Linked DNA regions of Homo sapiens. The protein of the gene in region 2 purifies or fractionates together with the protein of the main gene of each other region. This does not show direct contact. Each region holds a gene or a part of one and is shown on either strand. Other genes may lie near its edges. The genes, in order: ARID2, TEX13B and ARID1B.

The links.
Region 1: the proteins of TEX13B (region 2) and ARID2 purify together in Homo sapiens (affinity purification with mass spectrometry; one large-scale study listed by BioGRID and IntAct). This does not show direct contact.
Region 3: the proteins of TEX13B (region 2) and ARID1B purify together in Homo sapiens (affinity purification with mass spectrometry; one large-scale study listed by BioGRID and IntAct). This does not show direct contact.

Annotation. Positions count from the first base shown.
Region 1 is NC_000012.12:45,900,553-45,904,205, reverse strand, and holds part of ARID2 (AT-rich interactive domain-containing protein 2), read right to left. Parts: intron 1-3,653. UniProt on the Homo sapiens protein: Involved in transcriptional activation and repression of select genes by chromatin remodeling (alteration of DNA-nucleosome topology). Required for the stability of the SWI/SNF chromatin remodeling complex SWI/SNF-B (PBAF).
Region 2 is NC_000023.11:107,980,285-107,983,944, forward strand, and holds TEX13B (testis-expressed protein 13B), read right to left. Parts: upstream 2,087-3,660; 5' UTR 2,026-2,086; intron 1,876-2,025; 5' UTR 1,844-1,875; coding exon 1,385-1,843; intron 1,276-1,384; coding exon 796-1,275; 3' UTR 580-795; downstream 1-579.
Region 3 is NC_000006.12:157,207,378-157,211,130, reverse strand, and holds the end of ARID1B (AT-rich interactive domain-containing protein 1B), read right to left. Parts: coding exon 3,240-3,753; 3' UTR 352-3,239; downstream 1-351. UniProt on the Homo sapiens protein: Involved in transcriptional activation and repression of select genes by chromatin remodeling (alteration of DNA-nucleosome topology).

The DNA.
Region 1 (3,653 bases), on a different chromosome or scaffold from region 2:
ACATCTAGCTTAACTATATCCTAAATGCCCCATTAGCCATAAAAGCTGTTTTCTAAAAACTTATCAATCTTAAATTTTCTACCCAAAAGATCACAATATTGATGTGGCTATCTATATAATGAGAGATTATAAAAGTGAGCATCATCTAGCTAAAAAAAAGGGATGCTGGGGGCTGAGAAAAATGGTAAAAATCACCCAGAACTGTGGGATGGATAAATGGACAGATATGTGATAAAGCAAGTATACTAAAATATTCATGGTAATAGCTAGGTGGCAGGTATAAAAAATTTCATTGCAAACATTTCAAATTTGCCTATGTGTGAAAAATTTTATATTAAATGTTAAAAAAAAATATCAGCCAGCATGAGATTACCCAGGAACCTTGGTGCCTTCATTAAAATAACTCCGAATAAAAGAAACTACAGGAGAAAAAAAGAGAAGATGAAGACACGTACATTTTGAATTAAAAAACACTGTAGAAAAGAAGTTTATGGAAAAGATGCAAAAATTCAAAATCAAAATTTAATGTAGGGACTGGAGTCACTTTTACTATAGTAAAGCAAAGGAAAAGAAATGAGCAAAAAATGAGACTGAAGAATAAACAGTTGGGCATCTTTTCATGTTTTTTGGGCCATTTCAGTTTTATGTAGTTTCCATATATACATACCATCACACACTCAAAAGAGTGGATAAAATTAAACATTTTAATTACAATACCAAATGTTGGCAAGTACATGGAGTAGCTGAGACTCTCATACATTTCTATAGAGTGTCAATTGATAAAATCATTTTGGAATTGGTTGGCATCATGTAGCAAACTTTTAACATCTTATGAGTCACCAATCCTTTGAAAACACTCAACAGAAATATGTTCCGTATATGGCCAAAAAACAGAATATGGTTTAGAATGTTTATAGCAGCATTACTCTTAATAGCCCCAAATTGGAAATAACCCATTTGCCCATCAAAAGCAGAGAAAAAAATACAATAATATGAATAAAATACTATCATGCAACAACATGAATCAATCTCAAAAATATAATGCTGAAAATAATATTGTATGATTTCACATATAGAAAGTTCAAAATCAGGCAAAATGAACCTCTGGTGTCACAGATCAGGATAGTGGTCCCTTATAGAGAGGAGGATGGAGTAAAGATTGGAGAGAACATGAAAGATTTCAACTGATATTGCTCTATTTCTTAACTTGGACAGATAGTTATATGAGTGGTTCAGTTTGTGATAATTCACTGAACTTTACACTTCTGTTTTATAAAATCTTTATGATTTTCTTTAAAATTTTATTTAACAACTTTTAAAATAAAGTATGAAATTTCTAAGATCTTTCTGGAAAAGAAAAATTAGTTGTACAAAAATTGATTTAAAAATTTACAAAACGCTTTGGGAGGCTGAGGCAGGCGGATCACGAGGTCAGGAGTTCGAGACCAGCCTGGCCAACATGGTGAAACCCCATCTCTACTAAAAATACAAAAAATTAGCTGGGCGTGGTGGCAGGAGCTACTTGGGAGGCTACTAATCCCAGCTACTCAGGAGGCTGAGGCAGGAGAATCGCTTGAACCCAGGAGGCAGAGGTTGCAGTGAGCCGAGACTGCACCACTACACTCCAGCCTGGGCAACAGAGCGAGACTCCATCTCAAAAAAAAAAAAAATTTACAAAATAAAAATAACTTTACAAAGTACAATCAGTTTTTCCCCACAATCAATGAATATTTTAACAAAGAAAGAAAAAAGACTTTAGTTTCAAAAAGTTAACAAAATCATATTTTTCAAAGTGATAGTCACATGTTAAAAAGTATTCTTTTATTTGAATATTGCATGGATAAAACTAGAAAGAATAAACTGAAATCACTAGGATGATTTTAAAGTAACTAATAATTTCCTTTTTGATATAAATGTTTAATTTTTTGAGGTTTTAAAAAATTAAGCACTCACTTTGTTTTGATATAAAACAAAACATGCCTAATTTGTTTTTTTATAAAATGATATTCTTTCAACTTCTAAATTCACATGTTAGTTTTTTGAGATGATTTAACAAAGAATAAATATTGGGTCACTCTAATATCCTTAACAGATAATAAAAATAATTTCTAAGCAACACTAGTAAAAACCATTTAGGATACAAATCAGCTTCTAAGAAAACAAGTTTAAACAAGTTTCTTTCCATTCCCTCCTCAAAACAGTACGAAGGGTAAAAGAAATTTATTTTTTGCTAGGCGTGGTGGCTCACGCCTGTAATCCCAGCACTTTGGGAGGCCGAGGCAGGTGGATCACTTGAGTTGAGGAGTTCAAGACCAGCTTGGGCAATATAGTGAGACACCCTCCCCCACCCCCCACCTTACAGAAAATTAAAAAATGAACTGTTGGGCATGGTGGCATATGCTTGTGGTCCCAATTACTCAGGAGGCTAAGGTGGGAGGATCACTTGAGCCCAGGAGGTTGGAGGCTGCAGTGAGCCATGATGGCCCCACTGAACTCCAGCCTGGGTAACAGAGCAAGACTCTTGTCTTGGGGGGCGGAGGATAAGCAAACCCCCAAATCCTCAGAAATTTGAGGAATTACAAGGAAAGAGTAACCATACACAGATTGGGAAAAAACTACAAAAGTAGAGGTGTTAATATCCTCAGAGAGATGAGAAGACACCACTAAGAACAGGATGTTATAAAATAGTAACAACTGGCAACCAATAACAAGCTCTTAAAAATTAAGGAAATTTCCGGCTGGGGGTGGTGGCTCATGCCTGTAATCCCAGCACTTTGGGAGGCTGAGGAGGGCGGATCACGAGGTCAGGAGATCGAGACCATCCTGGCTAACTAGGTGAAACCCTGTCTCTACTAAATATACAAAATATTAGCGGGGCATGGTGGTGGGCGCCTGTAGTCCCAGCTACTCCAGAGGATGAGGCAGGAGAATGGCGTGAACCTGGGAGGTGGAGCTTGCAGTGAGCCAAGATCGTGCCACTGCATTCCAGCCTGGGCAACGGAGCGAGACTCTGTCTCAAAAAAAAAAAAAAAAAAAAAAAAAAAAAAAAAATTAAGGAAATTTCCAAAAAATAGATTAAACAGAGAGAAAACAGAAAGCTAAAAGAGAAAAGAAAAAGAAACATACCAGAAAAGTTCCCATTACTGAAGGATATAAATCTCCAGATTGAAAGGACCCACCAAAATGAAATAATGACTTCAATGAAAACAACAACAAAACACCCACCGAAGACACATCATCATCAAGAAACCTCAGAATATTCAGAAATAAAGAGATCACAACAGTTTCTAGAGGGGGGAAAACAGATCACATACAAAGAAATGGGAACCAGAATGTCACTAGTCTTCTCAACAGCAAAGCTGGTGCTAGAATACACCAAAGCAATGCCCTCAGGTTTTTAAAGAAAAATGATTTTTCAATCTAGAATGTTATGTACAGCCAACAACTATCAAGAGTAAGGGTAGATTACAGACATTTTTAGGCATGTAGGGTCTTAAATGATTGAAGGATATGCTTTTGCATGAAGAGAGTAAAACAAGAAAAGAAAATAAATGGGTTTCAACGAAAAGGGATTCAACATGGAGGTAATTCCTGAGAAGAGGTGTGTACCAGGTCCAGAGAGCAACCTGTCTAGACTGCAGAAGAGCAGTTTG
Region 2 (3,660 bases):
TAAAAGACACTTGACTCTGTAAAGCATCCAGTTCTGTTCCCCCACAGCCAGGGCCAGGCCTCAGCTATGGCCTTGGTGTCCATGGCTGTGACCCTGGCCCCAACTCCAAGTGACCCACTGCTTCATTGCCCAACACTATTCTGACTGTGGAATCTGCCTGTCTGTTCAGATTTTCTAACGTAAAAATTCATTTGGCTCAGGATTGGTCAAATATCCACTCCTGCTCCAATTATCTAAAGCCTACATGAAGGGAGAGAGTGTAGGTGTTACATACTGCCCAGGTCCGACAGATACTTAAGATAGGGAGCTAGAGACACACACACAAATAAAAACTGCAGTAGTTCTGGAGTGTTGACTACTAATACTCTGAAATACAAATGGAGTCATTAAAACATGTCTCTCCCTGCCTGTCATCTACATCCTCCCACCCACAACCCCGCCTCCCCGCCCCCCTACTGTCCAATCTTCCCACTCATCCCCTTTCCCCCACTCCACCCAATCCCCCTCCCACCTCTCCCCTCTCCCCCTGAAGATTGATTTCCCATTGAGATATATTTCTGTTCTATTTTACATTTCTGAATTTACTGAGGCTTTTGCAGCCAGATTCGCCTCCCACAGAGGAAGCAATTTTCCCTCCATGAAAAATTCACAGCTTTACACCACGGGCAGTCCCAGTTCCCTGGCCTGCGATATACTGGAGGTCTTCTCTGCTGATGGAGTTCGGAGTCTCTCCTGTCTCTTGGGGGCTCTTGAGGGTCTATTCCCTGGGCCTCCACATCTGACCACAGGCTAGCATCAGAGGCCCCCCAGTTGAAAGGCATCTGAGTTGGAACCCGTTCTGTGACCTTTGCTGGTGAAGGGGGTATATTGGGTATGGCTGAGAAGGCGGACAAAGGGCATGGGTATGAGTATGTGAATGAGGTAGGGAGCTGGACAGGAAGAGGCTCCAGTGAGACTGTGGACCCAAGCCCAGAGAAGACAGACATGGCTGTTTGTACTGACCTGAGATCTTTCTCCCTCTGCCCCGCAAAGGTGTAATTTGCCTGCTACAATAGCTCCGAGGGGCTGCCTGAAGCCTCCTCCCAGCCCCTGCAAGACCTCTGCGGGGGCAGGCCCTGCCTCTGCATACCTCTCCTCTCCTTTTCCTCCAGCAGCACCAGCAGCAGCCACCGCCTCCTTTTCCTGCTCACCTGCTCCTTCTGTCCAATCCCCTCCGGCAGTGGCCAGGCCTGGAAACACTGTAGCCTGGCCCTGTCCCTGGGGAGGTGCCAGCTCCTGGAGAGAAGTAGGCAGAGCTGAAACACATTCTGGGGACAGGGCAGGGGGTCCGGACAGGTTGGGGCAGGGCAGAGGCATTGGACAGGGACCATTCGGGGGATCTTACGGCATGGAAGAGCTTCCATCTCAGCATGTCCCGCTCTCTCTGCACCTCCGCAAGGCTGGTCTCGGTTAGCTGCAACTGGAAGGTCGCCTCATTGCATTCCATCTCCTGCTGTTCCTTGAGTTCCGTCAGGTTTGAGGCCAAGACCAGCGCAGCTGATCTGTGCAGTTTGGCAAAGCCTTGCAGCCACTGCACCCTGCGGTTTTGTAACTGCCCCTGCCTGTGGGCAAAGCGCACACCCAAGGCCAGGCTGCCCCAGGTGCAGGCCTCTTTGACCTCGCTGGGCACCTCGCTGTCCTCCAGGATGGCCCTGAGCTTGTCTTCCACCTCCTCCCAGGATAAGGATATATTCTCGAAGTAGAACTCGGGGCCTTTCGTGTGCCTGGCCATTTTCTCGATGATGAAGGCCACCACGTTTCCGTGCCGGAACCCACTACTGGGGTCCTCAGGTCTCAAGGCCATGATCGCCTAGGGGCTTAACGGTTTCACTAGCCCTGTGTGGATGGAGCAGCCAATAGGTTTCTTTCCTCCTCCTTAGCCCCTCCCCTCATCTGTCTTCTCCGCCCTCCCACCTCTGACAAGACCCTCCTAATGACCCTCTGACCGGCTTGTCCTACCCTAGGACATCTCCCACCAGGCCTCACCTCTTCAGCCAGGGCCAGAGGAAGTACAGGCCAACCCCGCTGCTTAACACGCCTGAAGAGAGGGTGGCCTCTTTCCCTCCTAGGGCTCTGCGGGAAAAGAAGCCTCAGGGCCAACCCATGAGGATTTTACTCTGGGACTGTTCCAATTTCCAGAGACTGTAGGGGTGAAAGGGAGTGAGTGAGGAAGGCCTCTGCCATTCCACTGGGACAAAAGGGAACCTGCCACATGGTCGGGAGACCTTGAAGGCTGAAAGAAACAGGAGTGGTCCGGAAGGACTTAGGACCAAAAAAAGTATTTGTGAACAAGTTGAAGACTTATCCCTCCCCATCATAATGGTTTGTGCCATGCCAGGGGAGTTTCGCCCCCAACTGGAATATTCTAGAGCAGGAAACAGCCCCAACCCCTCAGTTGCCCTTGGAGGAAGAGGGTGGAGCCAGGAGCGGAGCTTATCCCCTGTTTGCTCAGGACTAAACATCCCAGACACCCTAACAAATCCTGGCCTGCCTTTCCTCCCTTAGCTCCTCTTTCCCCACACTCCTCCCATCACCCCTTCTCCCACTCCTCCCCTACTGAAACGCCTTGAATCTTGAAGCAACTGTGGGAGAAAGAGAGTTAGGAGTAGCATAAATACACCTTTTTACCAAAACATGAAATATCAGAGATCTTCCATCAGAGGGATATGAATATGTCTCTTAAAACCTTCGGCCGGGCGCGGTGGCTCATGCCTGTAATCCCAGTACTTTGGGAGACCGAGATGGGCGGATCACGAGGTCAGAAGATCGAGACCATCCTGGCTAACAGGGTGAAACCCCGTCTCTACTAAAATTACAAAAAATTAGCCAGATGTGGTGGCACGCGCATGTAGTCCCAGCTACTCGGGAGGCTGAGGCAGGAGAATCGCTTGAACCCACGAGGCGGAGGTTGCAGTGAGCCGAGATCGCACCACTGCACTGTAGCCTGGGTGACAGAGTGAGACTCTGTCTCAAACAAACAAACACAAAAACAAGAAAACCTTGAATGACTTTCTGAGACCCACAAGATAAATCAGACAAATCTCAGGTTGAGTCCAGCGTTGCTACGTATTACATGACATTGTACTGTAACTGAATCTGTTTCTACCTATGGATCTATGATGATGGCCAATGACAAAAGGGCATGTAAAGTTGTAGGAGTAATGTTTTCTATGATCCCGTATTTGTGTGTATGTGTGTGTTTGCATATGTTTGTATGTTTCTATAATCTTGGAGAACAGAATGAGAGAGGATATATAGCAGACTCAACATTAATTATCTCTGGGAAGTGGGGTTGGACTGGAGGTTAGAAAAAAAGTTTTTAACTTTAAAATACATTTTTCTCTAATTTCGCTTGTTACAAAGAGCATATAACTAACTATATGTATGCATACATCACAAATCTGGAAAGTTATATACTAACACTTTAACAGTGGTTATCTTTGGGTAATAGGAATACAGTACTTTAAAAAATATTCTTGACATTTTTCTCTATTGTAAAATTGTTTATAATAAACGTGTTATGTTTTTCAAAATTGAAAAAAAATGTTTCTCCCAGTAACAGCTGATCATTGTAAATAATTTTTAAGTGCTTGGAAAGTACTTCTATAATCCTACCCTTCC
Region 3 (3,753 bases), on a different chromosome or scaffold from region 2:
TCAAAGGTGAACAGACATGGGAACAGGTACATGTGGTTTGATAGGAAATGAAAGATTTCCAACAGTTTTAAATGGATGGACTTCAGGGCAAAGGCTGGCTTCTTTTCATAAAGGAGGTAGTTAATAGCTTACATTGTATGAGACTGCCCATATGCCCTTAAAAAAATCATTCTTCATTATAACTCTGAAAAAACAGCTTAACTAGTCTTTGAACAGGCCACCTTCATCAGTAAAACATGCTTCTATATCATTCTCTTCCTCGAACAAAACACTGTGAATAGCTATTGCTGAGCAGACGCCGCCCAGTATCTCTTATGTGACATTAAAAAAATCCACTCAAATACCAACAGATTCAACTTTATAGCACCATTCCAAAATACTAAACTTTCTTTGCACCTTTATTTTTTATCTTTTTTTTTTTTTTGGTACACATGTAAAGTCTGGGCATCCTGTAAATTTCTGAAAAGCCTCATAGAAAAAAAAAAACCGACTAATTTTTAGGACAAAGCAATAACTCAGTTTATAGGCAAGATGATCTCAAGCAGGCTGTAAATTCTTCGTGGGCTTCTGTAAATCTTGATTCGGGGGTGAGAATATGGAAAGGAGGCTAAAGTCTTCCTGGATTAGTCTCTAGAGACTGTGTTGCGCATCAGGATAGAAAAACTTGTTGCCCAACGGTCAGACTCTGCGTATCGGTTACAATGCAAACCATAACAACAGTCTTTTGTTAATTATTTTACTCTTCTGATTGACAAAGGAATTGGAATACTGGATATGTTCGGAGTTTGTATACACCTTTTATTTGTACTCTGTAAGAGAGAAATTAGAATAATATTGAATTCCCTCTTACAAATCTCCATATTTGAAGCTTGGAGCACTGAAATCTGTTCTTAGCAAGCAGATGTATTTAAAGCAGAATTATAAATGGGTCTTTAATTCAACATATATTTGGTTGCATTGTTATGTAAGAAGACTGTTTGACTCAGTAATGTGGGAGTTGACAGATGAGAGACTGTTTGCAGAAAAGATGATTTTTTTCCTCGTGACACTGGAGAGTCACGTCTCACAATGACTGTAACTGCATGTTCTTGTCTAACTCTTCCATATATTACTGTGAGTAATGTGAACCGACACAATGTATGCGAGGGGCTGGGGATTCTGAGTATACTGTGATTGGGAGAGGGAAGAGAAGAGGTAGAGGTCCACTAACAGCATAATTATGCAGCAGTTTCAAAGAAATCGATTATTACACAGTAACAGTCAATGACCCAGGAAGAGAAAGTTTAAATTAGAAGTGACTAGTATTAAAAAGCTACTGTGCACCAGGTAGGAAGGAATATGAGAACCATAATATGCCCTGAAATAGAAATCATCACTTTGCACTATGTACACCACATACAATATAACAGATTCTTTTTTAACATTGCACAGTATAAATATTATACACGGTGGAGTAAACTAAATGCAAAATAACTCTGAGGCACACAGAAGAAACAAGGAATAGATTGAACTTTGATTAAACTAAGATGGAGTTAGTAAAAGGCAGAATGTTACATTTTCAGGCCAGTTAAGCTTCTGAGATCTCACCTCAAGTGGGTCAGCAGCCACCTCCCATAAATACTGAAAATGATCATACCTCAATGTCGTTAGAGTTAATTGCTTCAAAGAAAGACTAATTAGCTAAGTAATTTGAGAAAATCAAACTGTTGCTCCCCACTCTAAAGTAGGTAACCCCTAAAGGTCTCTTCCAAATGTAGGGTTTTATAATGTGAATACACTGCTGCATTCCCCTATTTCTTGTAAATAACTTGATTACTAGGAAACCACTTTAAGGAAACTAGAACAGTATTCAAGAACACCCATCACAGTGCTTAACAAGATTTAATGTACATTTATTCTTAACATGTGGAACATATAAAGATTTTATACTGAATAAATGATATTCATTAAGCCAGAGGAAAAGGAGGAATTTACATCAAGTTTTTTTCTTTTTTTTTTTTTTAAACTACATTATCTTGAAATACAAATGTGGATTCTCATCACTGAAAAATCTTTGAAGTTGTGTTTCTTCCTTTTAGTTGTATTTTTTTCATTTTCTCTTTTTTGACTGTACTGGTAACCATTTTCTAAATCAATCCATATATAACCATTTCCACACCTTGATTCATGAAGCAAATTGTGATCAGCTGCTCTCCTGAAATCGAGCATGACTTTATACATACAGAAACTTGTACATTACCCTCTTTTTTTTTTGTTTTTGTTTTTTGTATTTTTTCTTTCTTTTTTTGGAGATATGGCCCTAATGAAAAAATATATAAAATAAAAATAAAAAATTATTTAAATCTACCATCACTTCGTAGTTACCACATCATGAAAAAGAAACTAAAACTTTGTACTAAAAAAAAAAAAAAAAAAGAAAAGAAAAAAATGAGGGTATGTTTAATGTACAACTTCTATATACATCACAGCCCATAGGCAGTAAAAAAAATATTTAAAAAATGATGAAAGGAATTGTGAAGAACTGTCACGTGGAAGGTCAAACGCCGACAGCAGGCATGACGGGAGTGGTGAGGAGCAGTTTCCGGATCGTTGTCAGGTATGTATTCTCAATCTTAAAAAACATTGTTTTTGCTCCCAGCCTAATGGAACCATATTCCTGTGGAGAAACCAGTATCATTTCATAGTTTTGACTACTGACCGACATACCTCCTTGAGCCCCTATACCTGTATCTGTAGAAATTTCTATTGCACAGAACTTTGGGTGATGGGATGCAGTTTTTTTCATTCTCTGAGGAGTAAAACGCATAGGAAATGGATAATTTTTCACCTTTTTGACTCAGTGTGGTGAAATTTTCGCATCTTAGCATCTTTTGCCACAACTTTTTTCTTTAAAGTCAATTTGCTTCCCCCAAAAATGCAATACAACATGGGAAAGAACATTAAAAAGATCTGTGAAGAACAAAAAGTGACCTTTGAATGCACTAGACAGCAACTTTGGTTAAAAAAAAGAGAAAAAAAAAACCCCAAAGGATGTACTTATACACACAGACAGCAAATATTAATTTCATAACTGTTCAAATTAATTATTTCTTTAATTCCCAATTGGTAAATAGTGAATGGGGCAGAGGAGCAAAGATTTTCTTTTCCTTCTTCCTACGCTGGATAAACAAGAACAGAAAACAGCCAGTTATATGTGACCCTCTAATCTTCACTCACACATGCTTGCCTTCTCACTTATGTCATAACTGCCCAATCTGAAACAGTACATCACAGATGACAGATGCAACCAGAGAGTTCAGGACAGCTGATATCGAGATATCCAGCAACCGGCCCTCGTGCAAAAGGAATTCCGAGCGGTTTTCGTCCACTCTGGCCATGGCTAGCAAAGCCTTGGCCGCCCTGCACATCATGTCTACGCTAGGTGGTTCCAGGGGCGGGGGCTGCATGTGCATGAGGTTGTGCTGGCTCTGCTGGTACTGGGCCATCGTGACCCCATCCTCTAGGAAGCTTATCAAGTTTCCAATGCTTCCTTTCTGCACAGCTATGGCCCTTGCTGCTAGTGCGTCCCCTTGGGCAAGGTTCGATAAAAGCGCCATGGACATTTCTCGACAGACTGGGTTTTTGCGATCCCCAACGTACCTAACTAATGTAGCATAGAATTTCTCCTGACGACTAAATGGAGGAGTGGCCAAGATCAGGTCCACATTATTGTCCTGGATACTGAGTTTACAGAGGGTCTCCAGCACAAGTCTC